3 separate regions of the Homo sapiens genome follow, and all the other regions are linked to region 1. Evidence: fine-mapped expression QTL. A gene starts in region 1. Each other region holds a variant in brackets. All regions are shown on one strand. Distances are from middle to middle.

Region 1 (8,267 bases):
GACTTCATGGTTCTCAGCAGCTTGCTCTTTCTCTGTCACTCTCTCTTCCCTTAGTATAGCATTTCAGATGTCCATCGTGCTTAGCATTGAACAACAGTCCAGGCTATACCTGGTTGATATGAAGTAGCCACAGATATACCTAGAAAGCCATTTTCCTCCCCCACTGCCTCCGATTCCCTGCCCCTGCCTGTCACATAGTTAACTCGGAGAAAGAGCAGTTCTTCTGGCTGGGAGCTGGCCAGGCACCCACAGCTGGGCCAGGGTGTCCTGTTGAACAGAAACAATTCCCTAGAAAACCAACATCAGACAAGGCCACTCTGCGACCAGGATGGAATAAGATGAAAACAAGACCACACATTAATCATGTCTGAACACGGACAAAACATGCACCTTGTCCAAACCACACACATGACCAAATATCCCCCAATCCTGGATAATGCAAATGACTGCTGCTGCTTTACCAACCATAGCTGTGGCCTGCCTCCAATGTTCCCTGCTCCTAGAGAACATTTGTTAAAATACCCAATCACAAATTCCCCCTGGTAGCATCCAATCCAAAGTAATGCCCAGCTTCCTTAAACACGCCCTCAAGCCACCTGACACAGGTGCAAGCCCTCTAAGTCATCCTTCCTTGTACCATCTTACTGAGATGCCCCGCGGTTCCCACGGTGCTCGTTTTCAGTCTCTGCCACAAGAACCAGGTGTGGCTGGAGGGCAGTGATGACTCATACTCAACCAGATTTCTGCTCAAACACAATCTCCTCTAAGACACTGTCCTGGGCACTCTCCAGGCTAAGTCAGATTGGCCTTCTCCACTCATCTTTCATGCGCTCTACTATGGCTTTCAGCTACATACTGCCATGAGAATTGCATTCAAGTCAGCCTTCATTAGACTGAGAAGCCCAAAGTGTCATGTCTCTGTTCTGCACCTGTTCTTAGCACAGTGCCTATGCAAAGAAGATCAACAAACATTGGATGGATGGATGGATGGATAGATGAACAAATACTGCTGTATGCAAAATACATTAAAAACAACTACAAACTCAAGAGTTGATGAGAGAATGTCAGTAACGCCAAAAGAACTGAAGTAGTAAGAGAAGAAACCACCAAGGTTTGTGTAACCAGAGCCACAGCAAGCTTTTGCTCGTGCCAAGATGGATAGAAGTGGGTAAAGCTTATGTACAATTAAGGTGGGAGCCTTTTCTTCCATTTCTAACTCAAGACATTTGTACAGACCAACACATTATGTTCATTTTAGCTTTAGTTTAGCATACAGCAGTCTACCGCCAATACAATAAATACATTGCCAAAGGCTATCCAAACTTTGTTGTTACTCTGGAATTAAACAGAAATCATTTGTGGGCTTGCAAACCCTTCACTACTCACAGATTTGGGTCACCATAATATCTGTTTAATTGTAATTATAAGAGGCTTTCTCTGTGTCTGGCACTGTAGGCATGCATCTCCTAGCAAGTTCAGAGGGCACATTCTGATGGGCTTTTATAAGAGGCCATGTTGCAACTAACCAGCTTCACTTCAGGGTTAGGGATTTGGTTCTTTTCTGTTATTTTTCAGAAAACGAAATATAAGATACAGTTTTACTATGTTATCCATCAAGAGAAAACTCATTATCAGGCCAGGTAAGAATATAAGTGTATCAGAATCAGGCACAGTGGTGTGAGCGTGCAGTCCCAGCTACTTGGGAAGATCTGGAGTCCAGGAGTTCAAATCCATCCTGGGCAACACAGCGAGACCCTCCCTCTTAAAAAAGAATAAAATTGCATCAAATTGATAAACTGGATAAATCTGAAAACCAGAGACTTGGGGGAAAGGGTGGGCCTCTGTCTGCATACACACAACCTCAGCCCATTAGATCACTCCATTGGAAGACATACAGAATGAACCGTTAAATAACTGCACTTCATTACAAATATACTGCTGGAGATGCTTTCAAAAGAGCAGGTGATTTTTAGCCACAAACTACTATAAGCACCTTAAATCCCACTATAAACATGAATTAAATTACATTCGTTTTGACATTATCACCTCTAAGTATTAACTCCTGAAATAAATGAAAATCGATGCCCCCTCCCCCTGCAATAATGGTTGCAGTAAAGATTAAGTACAAAAGGACTAAAAACTACAGGAGCACTCTATTTTTCGTAGGAAGTTCTGAAGAATGAAAACAGTTCAAATCTGAAAAATAGGTCTGATTCTTCTTAAATGAGACTCAGTCCCCTTCTCATTGAGATACAGAAAGCACAGTCTGGCCATGGGAGAAGACATTTGGATTAACTTCTTTTTGTGCATAACCCTCTCGGTGACCCACCCAAAATGAAAGGTGATCAAAACAGAATTTTTGGTTACCTCGGGAGAAATTAACCCATTACTAAAGTGGCCTGTAAGGTTTAAAGTATATACTTCTGCCAATGAACTAAATCATCTTATGGGCCAAAGCAAAACAAGAGTGAGCTAAGTGTTCTGTCCCCAGCAGAGGAGGAGGATTTCATGCCCCTCATTCATTCATTCAACAAATATTTAGGTCCTGCTCTGTGCCACACACCAAAAGTGCTGAGCAAACTATGCAACACTGTGCTGTCCCTATGGTCACAGAGCTTACAGTAGAGGAGATAACTGTTACGCACAAATATGTAATACTGCTACGAAAAAAAAAGGTGTTGTATGAGAAAATGGAACAGGAACCAATTTAGACTACAGGTGGGAGAGAAGGGCACTGTGAAAAAAGTGACATTTAAGCCAAGGGGACAACAGATCACCACTACTTAGAAAAGGAAAACCTTTTTTGGCAAATGACCACAAATGGGATTTTAACTTTGCCTGTCAACAACGGACTGGGTTAAACCTCCTCTTTTCCAATCCTTCAGGCTTTCTGAACATCCTGACTAGTGTACTGGAATCCTATTACCTGAACACAGAAAGGTCTCACTTTATTATGATTTATTATTATCTGCAGCCTTCCTATGCCTGGCCTAGGAACATCCAAAAATAATCTGCCAGAGGCTGAAAAACAGAAGCTGGCTGTCAGCAAGAACATTACCTGGGTAGACCAAACATTTAATAGCCCAAGTAATCATAAGTGCCTTGCCAATAAAGTGGCAGCTTCTCTGGGCAGCAAGGTGGTTCCAATGCTCCGGGGTCTAAATCAAATGGGACCCAGGGGGTTCAAAGGTTAGTTGGCTACTTCGAACTGATGTTTACTCAGTAAATCAAAGACCGGATCACCATTTCCAGGTCCCAGACCCTGAAGACTTAAAGGACAGTATGGGAAGTGGCCTTTTAGCATCACGGAGCAGAGAGCTCGCCAGGCTGGAGGAAGGCAGCAGCGAAAGGGTCGGGGCCGGGAGGAAGGGGGGCGCAAGGAGAGGAGCGTCAGGTGCTCTGGACCCCGGGACTGCGAGCCAGACCAGGAACTGGGGCGTTTCCCGCCCCACCCCCCAACCCCTGTCAACCCCCAGCAAAGGCAACCCAGCCCCCTCCAAGACCCCGAGGTTCCAGCTTCCCCCGAGACAGGACCAGGAAGACACCAGCAGCCCCGCGCAGGGCCGGAGCCCACCAGGTCCGGGTGCCCGTGTCCGCAGCGCAGAGGAGGGCGCGCTCGGGTGCAAAAATGGCCAAGACAAAACTCTCCCCGCCCACCCGAAAAACCAACCACACCCCCTGCATCCCTCAGCCCGAGCCGCCCGGGGCCAGCCCCCGTGATCGTCTGCTCAGGCCCCCGCGGGTTCCCGTCGGCGCCGCGCGCGGGCTCGGCGGGCACACGGGCGCAAGTGGGAGTGAATGGGGGTGCGCGAGGCAGGCGAGGGCGCCCACCGCGGTGTCCCCCGTCCGGACCCTGCCCCCGGGGCGCCCTCCCGGGCTCCGCGGTTCTGGGACTGGCGCGCCGCCCTCAAGGCTGAAGTGGACGCCCGGACGCGGGCGGCCCCCACTCACCCATTGGCGTCGAGCCGGGCCGGGCCGCCGAGGCAGCGTGAAAGTTGGCGGAGGCGGGCGTGGGGGTTGGGGCGCCGGGATCGGGGCGCTGGGATCCAGGCGCGAGGGTCCGGACGCGGCGGCGGCTGGGCCGGCTTCTTCCTCAGTGGCGGCGGCGGCGGCTCAGCGCCGCCCGCTGCTGCCTCTGCTGCTGCTGCCGCTGCTGCCCCGGGGCGACTCCTGCTGCTGCTGTTGCATCGCGGCCCAATGCGCCCGGCTGCGCCGGGTTTCCTGCTCCCCGCGAGTGGAAATTGCGAAAAAAAAAAAAAAAAAAAAAAAAAAAAAAAAAAAAAAAAAAAAAAAAACAGCGCCGCCCAGCCCAGCGCCCGGCAGCCGCGGCCGCGCCGCCCGCTCTCCCCTCCTCCTCAGCGCTGCCGCGAGGCTCCTGCAGCTCCGCCTGCCGGGGACGCGCGGCCGCCGGGCGGGGGCGGGGCCGGAGAGGGGCGGGGCCGGGGCCGGGGCCGCGTCGGGGCAGGCGCCGGGGGCGTCCCTGCGGCTGAGGGGCTTGGGCGCCCTCCTCACCGCCCGCGCCAGAGGCACCCCTCTCCGCGCGGCTGCCACCCACCCGCAGCGGCTGGGCTGACGCCCCGGGAAGTGCCGCGAGACTCCTCGAGACCGGAGGAGAGGGGCTTCTTGGGGGAGGGGCGTGGGAGTGCAGGGGCACGTGGAGAAGGAGGAGAAGGGGGCTGAGCGGGAGGGGGCGACAAGAGGTGGAGGACGGGCTGGGGATGGAGACCAGGGCAGGCCCGGGGCCAAACGCCTGACCAGGGTGATGGCAGGTGGCCCTGGGGCATCGAGGCAATCTGGAATGAGTTTTCCCGGGGGGCTGTTGGAGGGGAAGGAAAAGGGTCCCTTGGAAGGGAGAGAAACGCGGCGTCCCTTCGGTGGGGCGTGGGAACGCAGGCAGGCCAGGTGCGAGTTCCGCACAGAGGAGGCGGTGGCACTGACGTGGGGAAAAACGGGCGAAGGACGCAGCGGGGCCGAGGGGACGCATCGCCTCGCTGGGACCCGCCTAAGCCCCGCCCCAGTGCCTGGGCCAGGTGCGGTTCGGGTGTTCAGGAATGTTCCCGAGCTCTGACGTTCCCAGGAATCCGCTGAGATGAGGGCTGGCTCCCTCCCTAGCAGGCATTATTGTGCCTTACTGACTCCCAGACCTGGACGGCCGACCCTTGAGTGGGCGCTAAAATGTTAACAGGGAATCCGTGGGCATTCGTGGGCAATTCAGAAGCTCCGTTTTGGGTCCATTCACCACCACACCTTTCGCCATAGATACTCTGCCTGCCACCACATTCCTCTACCGGCCCGTTATTTCCTTTTCCCTTTCCACCATCTGGTGGTAGGAAGCGATAGTGAACTACATGGGAGACATTTAGGCAAAGAGCACGTAAGACAATAGAGAAATTACATCAGTGGCCCCTGGAAATGGAGGAGGCTGAGGGCTAGTGGACTCAAAAGGGACAAATGAAAGCCGACCCCCTACCCAAGAGAGGGGCTGTCTCCATACCTCACCTGTGTTGGCGGGGCAACTCTTGTAAATTGGTTACCGTCCTGGGATTTCTGTAGAAAATTGTTCTTATAACTGTTTCATGAGTTTTTCAAAAAACCTCAAAGTCAGGGTCTTACAAACAAGAGATCAGTAGCATCATCTTTCTAAATACCGTTCATGTGTGTCAAACCGATCGAAATAGGAGACTAATCAAGGGACAAGAGGCCCATCCACACAGAGGCTGCAATTGAAGTCCTAGTGTCATCAATATCAGACTCCTAAAAAAGGGATCAGAGAACACGGAGATTAAGAATGTGAAGGCCGGGCGCGGTGGCTCACGCCTGTAATCCCAGCACTTTGGGAGGCCGAGGCGGGCGGATCACGAGGTCAGGAGATCGAGACCATCCTGGCTAACATGGTGAAACCCGGTCTCTACTAAAAAATACAAAAAATTAGCTGGGTGTTGTGACGGGCGCCTGTAGTCCCAGCTACTCCGGAGGCTGAGGCAAGAGAATGGTGTGAACCCGGGAGGTGGAGCTTGCAGTGAGCCAAGATCGTGCCACTGCACTCCAGACTGGGCGACAGAGCGAGACTCCGTCTCAGAAAAAAAGAAAAGAAAAGAATGTGAAGTGGGCCAGGCACGGTGGCTCACGCCTGTAAACCCAGCACCTTGAGAGGCCGAGGTGGGCGGATCACCTGAGGTCAGGAGTTCAAGACCAGGCTGACCAACATGGCGAGCCCCTCTCTCTACTAAAAATACAAAAATTAGCCAGGCGTGGTGGTGCATGCCTTAGTCCTAACTCCGTGGGAGGCTGAGGCACAAGAATTGTTTGAACCTGGGAGGTGGAGGTTGCAGTGAGCCTAGATGGCGCCACTATACTCCAGCCTGGACGACAGAGCGAAAAACTCCGTCTCAAAAAAAAAAAAAAAAAAAAAGAATGTGAAATGTTGAAGGCAGGGATGATGAATACTCAAATATTCCTCCTCCAGGCACCCTGGTGCCTCACTCATTACATGTCTTGTTATATCATGTTCTAATCAGGGCAATCAAGCCTTCTGATACCATCTTAGAGTTGACAAACACTGAAACTCACAGAGCCTGGATAAACCCTCTGCTACTGGGACATTTTTTTTCCCCCAACCCCAGAAGAACTGGTATGGGGGTCTGCTCAATTCCAGAGGTGGTTCTCTTTGGTAAGGCCGTATCAGTGGGTCATCCTAACCCTCTCTCAAAGAGCCTCAGACCCCTGAAAGTGATGGGGTACATTTCAACATGGCAACAGTTGTGCTGGCCTTGCAGTGGACTGTTATCTGGAGTGCTGAAGATTCTTGGCTGGTTGCCCAGTGCATTCTCACAATGATGAGTCAAAAGTCTTTGAACATTGTTGATGATACCTTCCCATAGCTAAACTTACCCAGGCATCACAGAGGCCACTACACCTAAACCAGCAGATGGGGTGCGGGAACCCTGTCGGCTCAAAGAAAAAGAAAAAATCAGCAGTTTGTCTTATGTCCTGCTTGGTCTCTCTGTCCTATGTGGAGAAGACAGTCTTCTCATGGAATTTTATTTCCAACTTCACACAGGTGAACACAGATCACTTGAAATTTGGGGGGTTTGTTTCGTTTTGTTGTCTTTTTTTTTTTTTTTTCTGAGACAGGGTCTCACGGTCACTCAGGCTGGAGGGTAGTGGCGTGATCATGGCTCACTGCAGCCTCAACCTCCTGGGCTCAAGTGATCCTCCCACCTCAGCCTCCCAAATAGCTGGGACTACAGGCACGTGCCATCTCACCCGGCTAATTTTTGTAGTTTTTGTAGAGATGAGGTCTCACTATGTTGCCCACGCTGGTCTTAAACTCCTGGGCTCAAATGATCCTCCCCCGCCTCGGTGTCCCAAAGTGTTGGGATTACAGGCTGAGCCACTGCGCCCGACTTGCTTGAAGTTTTGAGTCTTGTTTATTCTCTGGTCTATTTCAAGGCATATCTTTTCCTTCTTGGACAGGAATGCGGTGTCGCTCCTCCTTGATCTGCTTCCTGCGTGGTCAAATTTGCGTTACCACAAAAGAAAGACTGATGGCAAGACAATATTTTTGAAAATCCCTGAGCTATGTCCTAATTTTATTTTTTATTTTTTTGTTTTTGAGATGGACTTTCACTCTTGTTGCCCAGGCTGGAGTGCAATGGTGGGATCTTGGCTCACTGCAACCTCCACCTCCCGGGTTTAAGCGATTCTCCTGCCTCAGACTCCCGCGTATCTGGGATTACAGGCATGCGCTACCACGCCCAGCTAATTTTGTATTTTTAGTAGAGATGGGGTTTCACCTTGTTGGCCAGGCTGGTCTTGAACTCCTGACCTCAGGTGATCCACCCGCCTTGGCCTCCCAAAGTGCTGGGATTACAGACGTGAGCCATCGCACCGGGACATGTGCCCTAATTTTAATGCCTTAACTAAACAAAGTTGTGGTGATTCTATCCAAAACACTATAGTTTATTTTTCATTTTAAGTTTCTCTGACTTATGAAAATGAACCTTCCATTTTTTCACTTATTGTTTAGTTCTTCTGAATTGTTCCTATTGTCCTTTCATTTTTCCTTGGAGAAACTTTTGCTGACCAGCACAAGGGAAGTTAATATCAAGATTCAGATCCAGCTGCTGACATGAATAGATGCATAATTTCTCATCCTGCCTCCCTCTTACAAGAGTATCTTTTAACAAAATGGTTATTGCAATATTTCAAATGATGTAAATTCATCTCATGAATATTTCTAGAGAAATAGGATTTTATTTAATACA
Region 2 (8,276 bases), 250 kb after region 1:
CCTTATCTATCGAACAGGAAATTACTTATTCTTCCTATTTCTGGGGTTATTGTTAGATCATAAGAAAAAAATGGACATTAAAATGGTATGAATTTAAAGCAAGCTTTCTCACCTCAGCGCTATGGATTATTGTGAGGCGGACCATTCTCTATTATGGGATGCTGTCCTGTGCCCACCCCAGCCTCTATCTACTACATGCTAGCAGCACTGCACCCATCCCCCAGTTGTGACAACCAGAAAAGTCTCCAGACACTGCCAATGTCCCTCGGAGGGCAAAACTGCCCACAGTTGAGAAACAATGGCTTAAAGTGAAGATTTAAATTATTTATTCTGGGTTTTTTTTTTTTTTAAATCAAAGTATGATCGAGGCTATACAAATAGAGATAGTATCATACAGGGATGATTTCCAATAGGTGGATGTCAAATGGATCTCACAGACCCACAATGAGTCTACAGAGTCAAGGGTTACCATCACGAAAGGCAACCACCACTTTCTTTCTTTCCCAAGTGCTCCTTTAGATTTATAGCACATACCTATGTTGTGATGTGTATTGTAATTACTTGTGTGCTTAACTCTCTCCACTACCAGGCTATGAGCCTTTTGTGGGATGGGCACTTAACTCATTCAGCTGTATCCCCTAGAATAATGGCTCCCAGATTTTGATTTAAACATAAATCCCTGGGATACCTAGCACAATGCCTGAAACAAAACTGGCTCTTAAGAAATGGCTCATCAAATTCAAGCCAGTAAAATAGGAAAAATTTACATGTAAATTTTACCTGGTAGTCTCGGAGACCAACCAAAATAATGTCCGAGGTATTTATCCAAACCTACAAAAGAAAAGTCACTGCCCGTCACATTTAAAATAACGAAGAATCAAGAAATTCCAGAGTAACAATCAATTAGTTTAGAAATTAAGAGATTTTAGGCCAGGAGCGGTGGCTCATGCCTGTAATCCCAGCACTCTGGGAGGCCAAGGTGGGCGGATCACCTGAGGTCAGGAGTTCGAGACCATCCTGGCCAACATGGCAAAAACCCGTCTCTACTAAAAAATACAAAAATTAGCTGGGCGTGGTGGCATGCCCTTGTAGTCCCAGCTACTCGGGAGGCTGAGGCTGGAGAATCACTTGAACCTGGGAGACGGAGGTTGCAGTGAGCCAAGACTGCGCTACTGCACTCCAGCCTGGGCAACAGAGTGAGACTCCGTCTCAAAAAAACAAATAAATAAACTTCTTTAAAAGAAAAAAAAAAAGAAAAGAAATTAAGAGATTTTAGTTTGGGCTGGCATTGTGGCTCACGCCTATAATCCCAGCACTTTGGGAGGCCGAGGCCGGCGGGTCACTTGAGGTCAGGAGTTCAAGACCAGCCTGGCCAAAATGGTAAAACCTTGTCTTTACTAAAAATACAAAAATTAGCGAGGCGTGGTGGCGCATGCCTATAATCCCAGCTACTCAGGAGGCTGAGGCTGGAGAAACACTTGAATCTGGGAGGCGGAGATTGCACTGAGCCAAGATTGTGCCACTGCACTCCAGCCTGGATGACAGAGTGAGACTCTGTCTCAAAAAAAAAAGAAAGAAAAAGAAAAAAAGATTTTAGTTTGGGAATAGAAGGATTAACATACCAAATTAAAAAAAATAAATACAAAATCAGAGTTGGGACTTTTAGTCAACCTGATTAATAAATCTGCCTGAATAACTACTGTGATGGTGAATTAATCATTACTTTCCAAGGCAGTCCATTCACGATGACATTCAAGAGATGCAACATTAATACAATGCTTATATAACTCATATTCAAATTTTCTGAATGTACACTTTACAGCTATATGTCCAATTCCTAAATCAGAATCCAAACAAGGGCAACCTACTCCATTTAACTGTCAGGTCTCTTTAAGTCTCCTTGCAACTAGAATAGTACCCCAGCTTTTTTTTTTTTTTTTTTTTGAAACTTTCATGACAGTAACATTGCATTAAGAGCTGGGCCATCTGGCTGGGTACAGTGGCTCATGCCTATAATCCCAGCATTTTGGGAGGCCAAGGTGGGCTGATTGCTTGAGCTGAGGATTCGAAACCAGCCTAAGCAACATGAAGAAACCCCATCTCTACAAAAAATACAGAAATTAGCCAGGCATGGTGGCACAGGCCTGTAGCCCCTGCTACACGGGAGGCTGAAGTGGGAGGATCACTTGAACCAATGAGGGTGAGGTTACAGTGAGCCCAGATCATGCCACTACTCTACAGGCTGGGTGATAAGAGTGAGACCCTGTATCAAAAAAAAGACAAGGAAAAAAAAAACTGGGCCGTTTGTTTTTGCAGAATGTCTCTCAATTTGGACTTTTTGGGCAGGAATACAATACAAGTGATACAAATGCTTCTTTAACATTAGAACCTGTATAAAATTACCATTACAGACCTTGCTATTTTACTTATAGGTAAATCACTGTTTACCAAGGTAAGTCTTTTGGGAATTTCCAAAAATGAAGTCCATGGACAGTTAAAAACTGTAGAGGGATTTTCCCCCTTAACCAATTTTATATTAAAGTAAAACAAATCACACCTACCTTTTTTCTCAATTTTCCTCTGATGTGACATAACCTCTTTACACCATCGAAACACATTGCTTCTAGCCGTCCATTTCCCAACATTTTGATTACCTGAGCATACTCTAGCGGGGAGAAAGGAAAAGGGTATGGAATATTGTTCAACTTTTGATAACAGCAACTTAAAGTCCACATAAAACTGTCAAGAGAATAAAGTTGCACCAGTTGGGAATAAATACATATAGTAAAACTATAAACAAACATAAGGGAGTGATAAACATCAAGTTAGTTAACGGCAGAGCTAGAACTAAGACTCTATGATGACATTTCTTTCTTTCTTTCTTTTTTCTGAGCTCAGGTCAAGTGTAGAAAACTTCATAGTTACAAAGGTCAGTCGTAAAACCTTTACATCATTGCCCAGAAATGATTAGGCTTTCATAGACATACATATGCACCCCCTCACCCCCAATCTCATTCATTCCTACAACTGCTACCTTTATAAACACGTGTGCGTGCACACACACACACACCCCCCACACACACACCAGACATATGCCCTTATTGTTTTACATTGTTTTATAGTTCTGCTTCTCAGAACTGTAGAGATCATGCATCAGGTAGACCGGAAAGCCTTCTGATGCTCAGATTTGGCTAGTTTCATCATTGATCCACTTCAGTAAAAGCAGATCTCAGAGAATGTAATGCCATTTCTATAATATACTGTCTCTGCTATTAGACATGTTTAAATTATCGACTCATTCTGAATAAGTAGATTGACTACCCCACTTTTGGCTCTCCTTTACCTCAGTACCTTTAGGTGCAAATCTCATAATTTTTAGTTCATTTAGCAAACAAAAACAAACTTCAAACAATGTCTTTGTTGAATTAGAATATGACTAATCCCCAGAGAGGATGTCCATTAATTTGTAAATATACTGAGACTTCATTTTGAAAGGCTCAACAGTGGGGATGACTTGTGGAAGTCAATTACTCAGACTACAGTGAGTTTAGCACCCATCTACCACCTCAACATGGTTGGTCAACTCAAAGGCAGCCTTTCTTCTGAAGTGAGGGAAAAAGTAATAATAAAACAGTGTATGCCCAAGTCAAGTCAGCTGCTATTTTAGAGGCAAGGATGACCAAGGCTAAGAAACCAAAGGACTTTTAGCCAGAAAACGTATCTCATGTTTACTGGTTTATATGTATGGCGTAATAAATCCACCCAAAGTTCTATTAAAAGCTAAAGTACTGGAAATAATTGGAATACCTGAGGAAATATGGAGTATATACTAGATATTATATCAATGTCAAATTACCTGAGTGTGATAATTCTCTTCTAGTTATATAAGAAAATATACTTGCACTTAGAAGATACATGATCAAGTAAGGGAAAAGTAACATGATGTCTCTAAATTTCAAATGGTCCTGAAGAAATCCTACATATGGGGCTAGGTGCGGTGGCTCACGCCTGTAATCCCAGCACTTTCGGAGGCCGAGACGGGTGGATCACGAGGTTAGGAGATCGAGACCCATCCTGGCTAACACAGTGAAACCCCGTCTCTACTAAAAATACAAAAAAAATACCCAGGCATGGTGGCGGGTGCCTGTAGTCCCAGCTACTTGGGAGGCTGAGGCAGGAGAATGGCGTGAACCCGGGAGGTGGAGCTTGTAGTGAGCCGAGATCGCGCCACTGCACTCCAGCCTGGG[C/T]GACAGAGCGAGACTCCATCTCAAAAAAAAAATTAAAAAATCCCACATATATATTTCTTTATATGTGTGTGTACAGATGAAGGATTTAAGGGAGTTTGTTGCACTAATACTGCAACTTTCTGTAGGTTTGAAATGACTCGAAATAAAAGTAACAGGAAAGGGCAAACGATCCAGTTAGGATTTATTTGACTAGTGCTATGTATCTTGGTCTGGCACTTACAATATTCTTCAGTCTAATAAAATCAGTTAACTGTTCAGTTTCATTTTATTGTAGTTTACGAAGTTATATGCTAATGGCACTGGAGAATGGAGAGGTCTATAAGGGCCTCAGGCTCATCCTTCAAATGTCCATGGTCTACTCAACATATTATATGTACCATTCACTACCAGAAATGCTAATCATAGAACTGCCAACTAAATCACAGAACTGTCAACCATAGCTCAATTCCCTCTGAACTATACGACACATTCTTAGTTCCCAGTACTTTGGGAGGTCATGGTGGGAGAATCACTTGAGCCCAGGAGTTCGAGAATAGCCAGGGCAACATATGAAGACCTCATCTCTATACAGTTTTTTTTTTTTTTTTTTTTTTTTTTTTGAGACAGAGTCTCCCTCTGTCACCCAGGCTGGAGTGCAGTGGTGTGATCTCGGCTCACTGCAACCTCCGCCTCCCAGGTTCAAACAATTCTCCTGCCTCAGCCTCCTGAGTAGCTGGGATTACAGGCACGTGCCACCACACCCAGCTAATTTTTGTAATTTTAGTAGAGACGGGGTTTCATCATGTTGGTCAGGCTGGTCTCGAACTCCTGACCTCGTGATCCGCCCGCCTTGGCCTCCCAAAGTGCTGGGATTACAGACGTGAGCCACTGCGCCCAGCCTAAAAAAATTTTTAAAATTAGCCAGACGTGGTGGTGTGTGCCTGTAGTCCCAAATACTCGGGAGGCTGAAGTGGAAGGACTGCTTCAGCCCAGGAGGTCATGGCTGCAGTGGGCTGTAATCGTGCCACCACACTTCACCCTGGGCGATGGGCAAGACGCTGTCTCAAAAAAATAAAGTCCCCAGCTAAAAAAGAAAGGATGTTATTTTAAAAAGCGTAATTTATGAAAACACTTACCCTGACCATCCTCTTTGAATACCAGTTCTCTTTTTTCAGATTCATTCTCATTCTTACCCCTGCGTCTGTTTTTACCTCCTTTACCTGATGGTTTAAAAAAAAGAAAAGGAGGTAAATGACATTAATTATCTGTAAAACAGTATGAAATAAAATGAAATTAAGGCTTATAAAACCATTTTTTAAAAGATCACTTAAATTAAAAAATTCATCTATTTTAGCTACACAATCATATTAAATTTACAATCTCCAATCCCAACATTAACACATTATCACCTCCCTACCCTTCTTGGAATTTCCTTTGGGGATTTTTCTGACATAAAATACACATAAATAGCAGATATTATGTTAAAAAATATAGAAAAACATTTCACTTTAGCACCCATCCTTTTGAAATAAAAATGCAATTCTATACATATTCTTCTAAGCGGAAATCTTGGGTGTCTTCTAAAGCCAGGCCCTATGCAAGGAACCCGATACTTTCAAAATTAAGTGAAGACAGTGTCTGGACAGAGAACTGTGGTTTTCAAACTTTTGGTAGCAGAGTACCATAAATATTGAAATCTCACTGGGTGCAGTGGTGTGCGCCTAGGGTCTCAGCTACTCAGGAGGCTCAGGTGGGAGGATCACTTGAGCAAGCCCAGGAGGTTCCAGGCTAGCCTGGGCAACATAGCGAGACACTGTCTCTTAAAAAATAAAGAAGATCTGTTCGGTACCCAATTTACTTTCTTTTATAATGCTGGTCCCTACTCAACATCCCTGTTTCTATTATATGACCCCAGTGACCATGCTCTTAACCACTATGCAATAATTCTGCCCATTTACTTGTCACAATCACCCCATGAGGTCATAACATTCATTTATTCCCAGTTTACCCATGAGTTCCCTGAAGCTCAGAGAAGTTAAGTAAGTCGCTTAGCTTCAGTGAGTAAATCAGTTCACTGATTACAGTCAGTAAGCTGGGGTGACCAAAGTCACAATGTTTTTTTTGCCCCTAGCCCCCACATAAGCTTACCTCTCCACAGCATTTTGCTCCCATTCCAGAAAGGAAACCACATTGGCAGCCATTTCCAAAAGGCAGGAAAAAGGCTGTAAGTGGTAATGACCCTAAGAGACTCATGGGAAGAGCTTGGAAGCAGCAAAAAAAAATGGAGGACACTTAAATTAGGTCATGAAAAGTACCATTCCTCTAAGTAAGATAACTAAGAACTGATTGGTTTCAGACAGTACAGGAATGATAAACACCAAACTCAGCCTGGTGATTACCTCCAAAAAGAGAGTAAAAGGTGATTAGGGCTTTACCTCAATCTGCGCTGTAATTCTTAAATTCAGAGTAATGGGTTCCCAGGTATATCATGTTAGCTGTATTTTTTGTATGCCTCAAATGTTATTTAAGAAAAGACTAATTACTTGTCAATTTACCAGAATTAACCATACCCGGATCACTCCCCTTTGTATTTTATTGCCATGTAATGGGATGTTCTTTAAATTCTCTGTTGAATGAATGAGACTAGGTCTGAGTGTACAACAATTAAAGTGACATCAACATTCTTTAAACCAGAGTTGTTTTGGAGAAATTCCCAGAGAGGCTCTTTCTTAAGACATGAGGCTAGGGAACTAGATGTGATTTAGTGTAGAAGTCCTATCCCCTTGGAACCAAAGCAGAACCTATTATTCACTAAGGGTGGAGTCGACAGGAGGTAGGTGACTTAAACCAACAAATATTTATTAAGCATCTACTAATTGTCAAGTGCTGGCAATCCAATGAGATTAAGACAGATACTATTCCTGCCTTGTAGAGCTTACAGCCTGGTGGAAGAATTGGAAATCTTATTACTAGAAATAAAGGTGAGAATAAGATGGAAGTGATCCCCTTACCACCTCAGAGAGAATAAAGGATTATACAGAAGAAAACTGTAAGACTTTAAAATTTTTTGTTTATAACTCCATCTTTTCCAAAATAATGAGCAGTGACTGCACCAACTTGTGCACAGAACACCTCGACCAAGTACCCTAAGGGATAAAGTAATAAGTGACAGCTACAAAGAGGAAATGTGGTAGAATCCCTGGAGCCAGCTGTCAAGTAGAAAAGAGAGCAGAAGTAGGCCTGTGTCAGGGGAGGGTTTCCTCTAGAATGAATAATCAAAGGAGACTACTTACGGACTATGAAGTATGCTCCTCTCCTGTAGGAAAATACAGTATTTTCCCTATATTTACTTGCACAATTTTCTTCAAGTTATACGGCTATTAAAAATGACAGGAACACTGTAAATCTATAAAAGTAATTTCTTTAGGAGTGTTCTGTTTTTTGTTTTTGTTTTTTTTTTTTTAAGATTAGGCCTTCCGTTTTGGAAATCCCAAATAAAGTTATCCTCAAGTCTGATCATTTGTGAACGCTTAGCCTCAGAATGGAGGACACTTAAATTAGGTCTTTATTCTCACAACATATGCATCATCTGAAGCAAAAGTAGAAAACTTGGCTCAATATGGAATAAGTCTTCAGCAAACAAACATAAGCTATATCCTGTAAAGGGATGGAGAGAGTAAATCTCTAGAGGTGAGCCTTAGAAATGTATCAAGGTTTCACCCACTGTTCACAAGGGACAGCGAGTAGCCTCAACAATACTGAACTGTCCATAAAGAAACCCATGCAGGAGTACCTGGTGCTCACGAATGCAGACAGCACTCTGAAAGTTCAGAACGGCTTCCAGGGATTATAACCCCTCATGCCCGGGAAGGCCAAAGGGGCCTATCTACTAAACCTAGGCCGCCCCGGGGAAGGTTCCCGCCACCGTCCCCACCGAGCAGCGGTCAGTCTGGCGCGAATCAGGAGCAAAAGCCCACATTCTCCCGCAGGAGGCCCTACAAAAATGGCGCCGGCTCCACCCCAATGTGACCAAACTGGGCAACAGGAGTT
Region 3 (8,000 bases), 300 kb before region 1:
GGGTCAGGGGTCGTAGCCACACATGAGATATACATACTTGAGGCCGGCACAACATCCAGGGGGACAAAGAGGGACACGCCACCTGCATTTCCAGGCTGAAGGGCAGTTGGCCTTGCTTCTAATAAGGCCCAGGAAAAACCCCTGTGTGTGAGCAGGGCCTAAATGCTGGGTACCCAGTCCTCATGAAACCCACACCGCACCCCTCAACCTCACACTCACTCCTGCCTGAGTGCAGGAGCAAGGACAGAAGTGGCCGGTGTCTTCAGATAATTTTGCTGGAGGATGTAAGAGGGAAGCTTGAGCACCCCCTTCTCCTCTCCCTTCCTCCCAAGGTCTGTGGCAGTCAGTTCCCCTCCTGTGTTCCTTCCATAGCCACCCCACACCCGCCCCGGAGGTGAGAGCACAGCAGTACCTGGTGTGTGTCAGCGGACCCACCGGTCTCTCCGGCCTTCTCGGGGGCAGTGCGCCAGGTCTGCTGAGAGAATTGGTCTTAGGTGGCCGAGGCTTTTTTGGCGGTATGGCAGGAACGGAGGGCTTCTGTAAATCCAGTTTTGGCTCTCTCTCTGGTCTTTCTTTAAATCATTGTTTAAAGAAAACAGATAGATCGAGTGTAAGTGACAGTACTTAGATGCAGATCACTCATTTCCTGCTAAAAAAAAAAAAAATTACTGATGCTATTTCTGAAGGTGATCATGGAAGGCCAAGAGCACCACTTATTCTTTGTCAGGTTAGAAGAAGTCCCACAGAGCTCACTGTTCCCTCCCTTGCACACCTTCACTCATGCTGGTCCTTCTGCCTGAAGCGCCCTTCTGGCCACCGCCCACCTTCAGCATACTCCAGCTCTTCCTTCGAAGCCTGGCTGAAACGTGACACTGCCATGTTCCCTTCCCAACAGCTCAAAGGCAGACTTCCTTCCTTCCTCACCTGAGCATTACAGGGCAGCGCTTTACAAACACGCTCAGACACTTTCTGGGTGTTTGCATGTTTGGCACAGCCTGTAGGCCGACAGCCCCTGAGGGCAGGGCCCAAGTCTGGTCATCTCCTCAGAGCTGTATGTGGTGCTGGCATGGAGTCAGGGCTCAGCAGAGGGCTGAGGGGTTTGGTCAATGGCCCACGGGACCTGCTGGGTATGGGAAGGAAAGAGGCCTGACACGTCTCAGGCTGGCCTCTGAAAAGGGCCATGAGCAAATAAAAGGGAGAGCATTTCAGGGAACAATGAGTTCTGGATTCTTCTTGCGCACAAGAAGTTTGAACTTGGAAGGCAAACTAGGACTTCACAGGTATAAGGTTTCCAAGGCTTTTTGGAGTCACAGATATTAGAATGAAGTTGAAGCCAGATCTGTTGGCCGAACGGGGGCAGTGTTCAGTGACAACCTCATATTTTCTGTTCCCAACTAGCCTTGCTCCGTGTGTGGCATAAAAAGCATACATCCACATTCTTCTTGATAAAGATGGAACTTGAGAGAGTTGCCCAACGGACTATAGGCAGGCTCCCTATGCTTACTTGTAAGATGGTACTCAGGACACCTTCTACTTGCAAACACAGACTCATGTTGTTTGGGTGCCCAGATGGTTGGCAAAAGGTTAAAAAAAAAAAAACCCATCAGGGCTGGGCGCGGTGGCTCACATCTGTAATCTCAGAGCTTTGGGAGGGCAAGGCGGAAGGATCACTTGAGGCCAGGAGTTCAAGACCAGCCTGGGCAACACAGTAAAACCCCGTCTCTACAAAAACTAGCCGGGCATGGTGGCATACACCTGTAGTCCCAGCTATTCGGGAGGCTGAGGCGGGAGGATCTTGAACCCAGGAGTTCGAGTCTGCAGTGAGCTACAATCGCACCACTGCACCCCAGGCTGGGTGACAGAGCAAGACCCTGTCTCTAAAAAAATAAAATAAAAATAAACCCATCAGGTACTATTATGCTCATCCCCACAATGTGGGGAAATATGCTCCAATCAGGAATGCTGGCAACTCATTTTATGGCACACAGGGGCCAGAGGAGGAAGGGCTCTGTTGAAATGCAAAGCAGGGGACATTTCTCCTATTGCAGCAGGACAGGGACAGGAACTCCAGCAGCCTGCTGGATGAATGGAAAAGGGAGTTTGTGCTGACCCAACAGGGAAACCAAGTATCCGGGTAGGGCTGATTCCCTGGCTTCCCTATTGCATCTGACCAGGGATTCTACGTCCCTCACCCGCTGTGGCATATAACAAGGGATCATGGGAGAGGAAGGAACCAGAGATGTGGGGCCACTTGGTCAGCCAACTAGGGTGGTTGTTCACATGTAAGCCTAGTCCATATGTCAGCATGGACTAGTGCAGGAAGTGTCCCCATCACGGAGCCTGGCTATTACCCAGAAACTAGCCATGTGTCCTCCATGAGGACAGAGGGTGGTGTCTGGTTATTTCACATCACACACTTTTTTTTTTTTTTTAGACAGGGTCTCACTCTGTTGCTCAGGCTGGAGTACAGTGGCATGGTCACAGCTCACAGCAGTCTTGATTTCCAGACTCAAGCGATCCTTCCACCTCAGCCTCCCAAAGTAGCTGGGACTATGGACACAGGCCACCAGGCCTGGCTATTTTTTTTTTTTTTTTTTTTTTTTTTTTTTTTGGTAGAGACAGGGTCTTGTTATGTTGCCCAGGCTGGTCTTGAACTCCTGGGCTCAAGTGATCCTCCCGCCTCAGCCTCCCAAAGTACTGGGATTACAGGTGTGAGCCACTGTGCCTGGCCATACCAATGCTTTTATACAAAGAGTTATTCATATAGTATATACTCAATGGCTGGTTTTTTTCTTCAATCCGTGACACAGACCTGGCCTTCACAATGAGGTTCCACAAGTCAAGTTCTAACTGCTCACTGTGAAAGAAAGAGGTATAGCTTCTTAAGAGCTGGCAATGTTGGTAAAATTTTTGGCAGGCTGATATCAAATATCAAATTTCACAATAAAATTTCATGAGGCCACCAAGGAGCACCTCCAAATAATTACATTCATTAATTCAGCATTTCTCTTGTGACTTAAAAATAACTGCTTTTTAAAATGGGATTTGCTCAGCCTCCTGTTCGTAATAACATAGCACTTTTCCCATAAAAATGTGTGATCAATCAAATCCTAGACACCTAATAAAATGAGTCCTTCTACAGTATGCAGAATTCTTTGGGAGAGACTCTCAAAATGGTAGGAGTCAAACGCGTTCATAAACCTGATTGCAGGACACACATTAACCTACTTTCCTGCCAATGACACTCCTGACCACCTTCAGGAGACGCTGGGGACCAAGCTGCTTTCCCAGTATTACCATGCCACCCTCCCCTCCTCCAACATCCTTGACCAAGGACTTCTGTCTGTAATAACGTTACCCAGAGTCAAGGGTCCATGAGTGACCAAAGAAAAGAGCTTTCATTTGTTTATTTATCTGGACGTGAATTTCACTATGCCAAATCCATCCATCAACAGTGAATGAGCACCTTGGGACACTAGGCATGAAGGACAGGCTAAGTGGAAACTGACAGATATATACCAGGCCCTAAAGGAACTTACATCCGACTTCAGGGTGCAGAGAGGGTGGCCATGGTAGAGACATCAGGAAACAGCAGCAATGTGTTAATTGACTAGACTGGTTATTTTTCATCTGATGAGAAATTGTGGTCCCACGAAGTACCACATAACCCTCTCCTACTTCCTTAGCAATAGGATTTGTAAAAGCAATCAAAACAAAACCATGATCACCATATTCCAAAGGAAAAGCAAATTCTGTGGGTATTCTGGACTAGCCGTGTAACAGACAGCTTCAGCTCCTGCTGTTCTGGAAGTGCCAATGAAGAATTGATTTCATACCTTTTTCTTCTGTTCTGTTTGGAAGCATTTCTGGTCTTTCAGGAGGTATCTTTTTAATTTCATGTTTTCTCTCAGTGGTGCCTAGGAGGGAAAGGGTAATAGTGATCACAAAATGTTTTCTGTACTCAATTATTACACCCACCAGCATTTAAATCTTTATCAGGTAGAGCAAAGTCAGTAAGATTTTTTCCCCTGAGTTGGGCGTTAGCATTATCTGGCAAGCACGAGCTGTTTAGAAACAGAGCAGAAGACATTTCTGGCCTATGTCATTAAGTTCACCTGCCTATGTATCCTTAATTTACAAGAATACCACTAATAATATTTTCTGATATTTAAGCCTGATTTCCTTAGGCATCAATATAGTCACAGGAAATCACCGGGTGGGGGTGGAGAATGTGTATAAATAAATGTCAATTATCAAACTTTACAAATAAGGGGCCACTGAATGTTGTGTTCTACCAAAAAAAGGGGGTTTCATAGGAATCTGGATCCCATTTTGTAGCCATTTTAAAACAGGGCCTGGAATTACCTGATACTCCTCCCAGTAAGAGGTGAGGTCTACATCCCCTTGCCAGGAATGTGGGTGGGCCTGTGACTGCTTCAATCAGTGGCAGGAATGATACCACATAACTTCCAAAGCTGAGTCATAAAAGTCCCTGTAGTTTATGCTTTATTTGCTGGAATACTGAACTTCCATGTAAGAAGTCAACTACCCTGGAGAGGCCACATACAGATGCTCCAGCCTATAGCCCCAGCTGAGCCCAGCCTTCCAGGCACCCTTGCCAAGGGGAGCCAGACACGTGAGGGAAACATTCATCTTCAAAGTGGATCCTCCAGCTTCAGCTAGTTCAGTATTCCCAGCTGAGGTCCCAGATATGACGGAGCAGAGACAAGCCAGCCCAGCCATGGTCTGTT[C/T]TTGACCCACAGAATCCATGAACATAAGAAGGCTGTTGTTTTATGCCACCAAATTTGGGGTCCTTCAAGTATTACATTTTTTCAAATGTACCACTTAGCACTTAGCCTTTACCCACATGGACTGCAGCTGCTCCCTTACCTGGGGTTTCCTCATTGGTGCCAGTGGCCTCAGGCATGTAAGAGCACTTGAGAAATAGCTAAAGCACAAACCAGTCAAAAGTACTCCTCTTATGTATGGACTGGGCTGAGTTCTTAACAAACTCTTTACATGACCAGTTCCAAAGATGGGTGCTTGGTACTAGAAATCTCAATTACACAACCTCAGAGAACAAAAGAAGTTAAAAAAAATATCCACCAAACACATCCTTTACTTAATTCCTCTTAATGACTCACTACAAATTAATCACCACATCTCATTTCTGTCAATTTCATATCTGATTTTTTTTTGGTAAAATAATCAAACGCAAGGAAAGTTGACGAGGGAGAAAATATGAATATCTATCTCCCCATTACAAAGCAGTTCCCACGATCATTCAGGCAGGATAAATGAGCAGTAATCTATAAACATTAAATGCCATCCTGCTTTGCCCCACAGAGACCCATCATAAACTTTGGTAAAATTGTTTTAAAAGGGTAAGAATTTGCCTACCATGCTACAATCTACTCACCTAACAATAATGAAGTCGGTATCATTCCTAGAGACACAGAAAGAACTGACAATCCTATTATACTGAAGAATCCAATCTTAGCTACATTCTAGACTGCCTGAGCCTTGGACTCCTCAACTAATCTCCACGGTCTCTGATCAATTACCAAGGCCTACAGGGAAAGGGGTCTTCAGAGAAAAGTAAATAAATAGCTTGCTTCAATTTCAGCACAATAAAATATATGGGCAGAACCACTAGGTGGCAAAATGAAACTGCTCAATGCAAACAAGGATGGGGGCGGAGCAAAAGATGTAATTAACATCCCATTTCAGGACTTAATCTCTAATAATTCTCAACTATGCCAAAGGGAATGGGAAAGGAATTTGGGGTCAAGTTTTTCCTCTTAACTTGGTGGGCCAAAAGAACTTAAAAATCACTTCTTAATAAGTTTATAAATAAACCAATCTTGAAATTTATTCATAATTTAACTGTTATAGAAATATAATTGTGAATGTGTAGAACTAAAAATACCCTTTCTCTTCTATTTTAGTTGTTAATTTTTTAAAATGCTACTTAACTAATAACTCATGGAGGAATTTTTCCCTATAATTAATTTTAACTATTATAAAGAGGAGTTCTACCGGGAAATATGAAATATCTTTTTATATATGAGAATCCAGTGTGAAACAAGCTACCAAATGTTCAACATCAATTCTTCCTATATTATTCAACCTGAATATCTGAACTACACAGAAAAAAAGTGAATTAGACTCTTCAAAATTAAACAAGAATCATAAGGAAAAGTATTTATTGCTAGAAAAACATCTTTTTGTTGAGGGGTAAGTGAAGTCAGTACAAATTTTGGTTAACCACATGGGACAGATATCGAAAATTCAGCAACACTATATACGCACAACAATGCTATGACCTGTGGGAAACAATCTTCCCTAAGCTGACCTTCAACTGGGCACATGAGAAACAGGGCAATTCAGTTCTTTTCTCCTCAAAAGCTGTTTACTTAAAAAAACCCAAACTTGTTTTTTTTGTTTGTTTGTTTGTTTGTTTTAATTCTTTCTGATCATTCTCATTGGGAGCCTAGATTTTTACACTATATCAGGGTCACATTTTAATGGTATGTTTATCTTTTAGGAAAAACAGAAGTATCTTTAAAACCTGCCTGCTGAGACCAAATCGTAACTTCCCAAGTAGTCAATCTATGGCACTTGAACCAGGAATCCCGAACTCTACACTGAGGATGATTTGAATATATGCAAAAAGAAAGACGCATATTTTATTTGATGGAACTGAAAGGTACATTACCTGCCCCTTGTTTGATGACAGGAGCGGATGGAGGCGGTGGCTTCTTGGGTCTCTGAAAAATTAATAAAAATTATACCACATGAGATTGTTGGCAAGCCTGTCCTCTCACAGAAGGACCACAGACATTGTTTTCTATGTGCAGTTTGGACAATTTAGAGAACCTCTCCAAAAAAATTGAGCAATTCTCTCTCCAGGGACGTCAGTTTTTGGCACCTCTAAACAAACACTAAAATAAATCCAGTCGGCAAAACAAAACTCCAATCGACAAATGAAACGCCATTTCCCCCTTTCTAAATTTGTAACAGCCTTCTGGAAAAGCACGGCTCAGCAAAAATGGCCTGAAACCAGCAAGCACAATGGTACTCCTACGCTGAAGCTGCATTTGCAATTAAGATTTAATCTGCTGAATAACCATGCATTCGAAAAGAGTCACTGTAAAGATTCAAAATTGAATCTGCTCTGGATGTAGGACTCTCAACAAAATGCAGGCTGAGGGCCCACTGCAGCCACATCAGGTTGCAAGCCTTCTGCCCCTTTCTACACCGAGGCTGGCAGGCCATTTGTTAGACACCCCACAGACTCATTGTACATGTGATAAACTGGAACAGAGAGGGATTTTTTTTGTTGTTGTTTTTTGGTTTGTTTTTTTTTTTTTTGCATATCAGCCGTGATTTGTTTTTCTCACATGCTGTCACTCTGTAGGTGATGGAGGTAGCAGTGCAATCAATGGCATTCATCCCTGAACTGGTTCCAGAGTAGCCAGCATTTTCTTGCCACCTAGGATTGACTGTGGGAGAGAGATGATCAGGCTGGACTTGGAAAATTATTCCATGGCCAAAAAATCCAGCCAGGGCACTGTTCTCAGACAGCTGTGTTAGGGGGAAGCAGTGATCTCTGATTCTGGGTGCATATGTGTGCGCACACGTGTGTGTGTCATTCTTAATGTTTTTCTGTATTGTCTCTATGAGTGCAGAGAAATATACTTTATTAAAATAAAGAAAGCTGCTCTAAGGGCCACCTGCCCTTACACACAGGTCCTCCATGGGATGGATGTGTTTCTGCCTCATGATCTCACATTATTCTTTCCCCTTTTGCCAGCCCCTTCTAGCTCTCTACTAACTCTTTTTCTTCCTCCCTTCTCTGTCGTTGTGTTAATTATCCTGGGGACAGATGTGTGTTTACCTAACAAAAGTATCAGTGAAGTTCTGCCAGTTAACCTTCCTTTACCTCGGAATCAGAGTACAGGCATACCTCAGAGATAACGCAAACTCGGTTTTAGACC

Evidence for each region. PIP is the estimated chance that this variant, and not a neighbour inherited with it, causes the effect.
Region 2: its variant is fine-mapped to the expression of SH3KBP1 in sun-exposed skin (GTEx, PIP above 0.99).
Region 3: its variant is fine-mapped to the expression of SH3KBP1 in sun-exposed skin (GTEx, PIP above 0.99).

The regions. Positions count from the first base shown.
Region 1 is chrX:19,883,356-19,891,622 of GRCh38, forward strand. SH3KBP1 (SH3 domain containing kinase binding protein 1) reads right to left here and starts at 4,245. Exons shown (of 18, transcript NM_031892.3): 1 at 3,952-4,245. The coding sequence starts at 3,955. RefSeq lists silencers at 3,647-3,786, 4,267-4,336, 4,397-4,696 and an enhancer at 6,862-6,911.
Region 2 is chrX:20,133,177-20,141,452 of GRCh38, forward strand. It overlaps EIF1AX (eukaryotic translation initiation factor 1A X-linked), which reads right to left. Exons shown (of 7, transcript NM_001412.4): 2 at 5,363-5,446; 3 at 2,562-2,665; 4 at 781-831. EIF1AX-AS1 (EIF1AX antisense RNA 1) reads left to right here and starts at 6,792. Exons shown (of 2, transcript NR_046592.2): 1 at 6,792-7,059; 2 at 7,159-7,268. It also overlaps SCARNA9L. RefSeq lists an enhancer at 7,904-8,063. The variant C/T (reference allele first, on the strand shown) is at 4,248.
Region 3 is chrX:19,588,231-19,596,230 of GRCh38, forward strand. It overlaps SH3KBP1 (SH3 domain containing kinase binding protein 1), which reads right to left. Exons shown (of 18, transcript NM_031892.3): 10 at 6,719-6,770; 11 at 3,837-3,917; 12 at 413-572. Among named protein-coding and RNA genes, the nearest start is that of MAP3K15, 77 kb to the left of the region's middle. The variant C/T (reference allele first, on the strand shown) is at 4,752.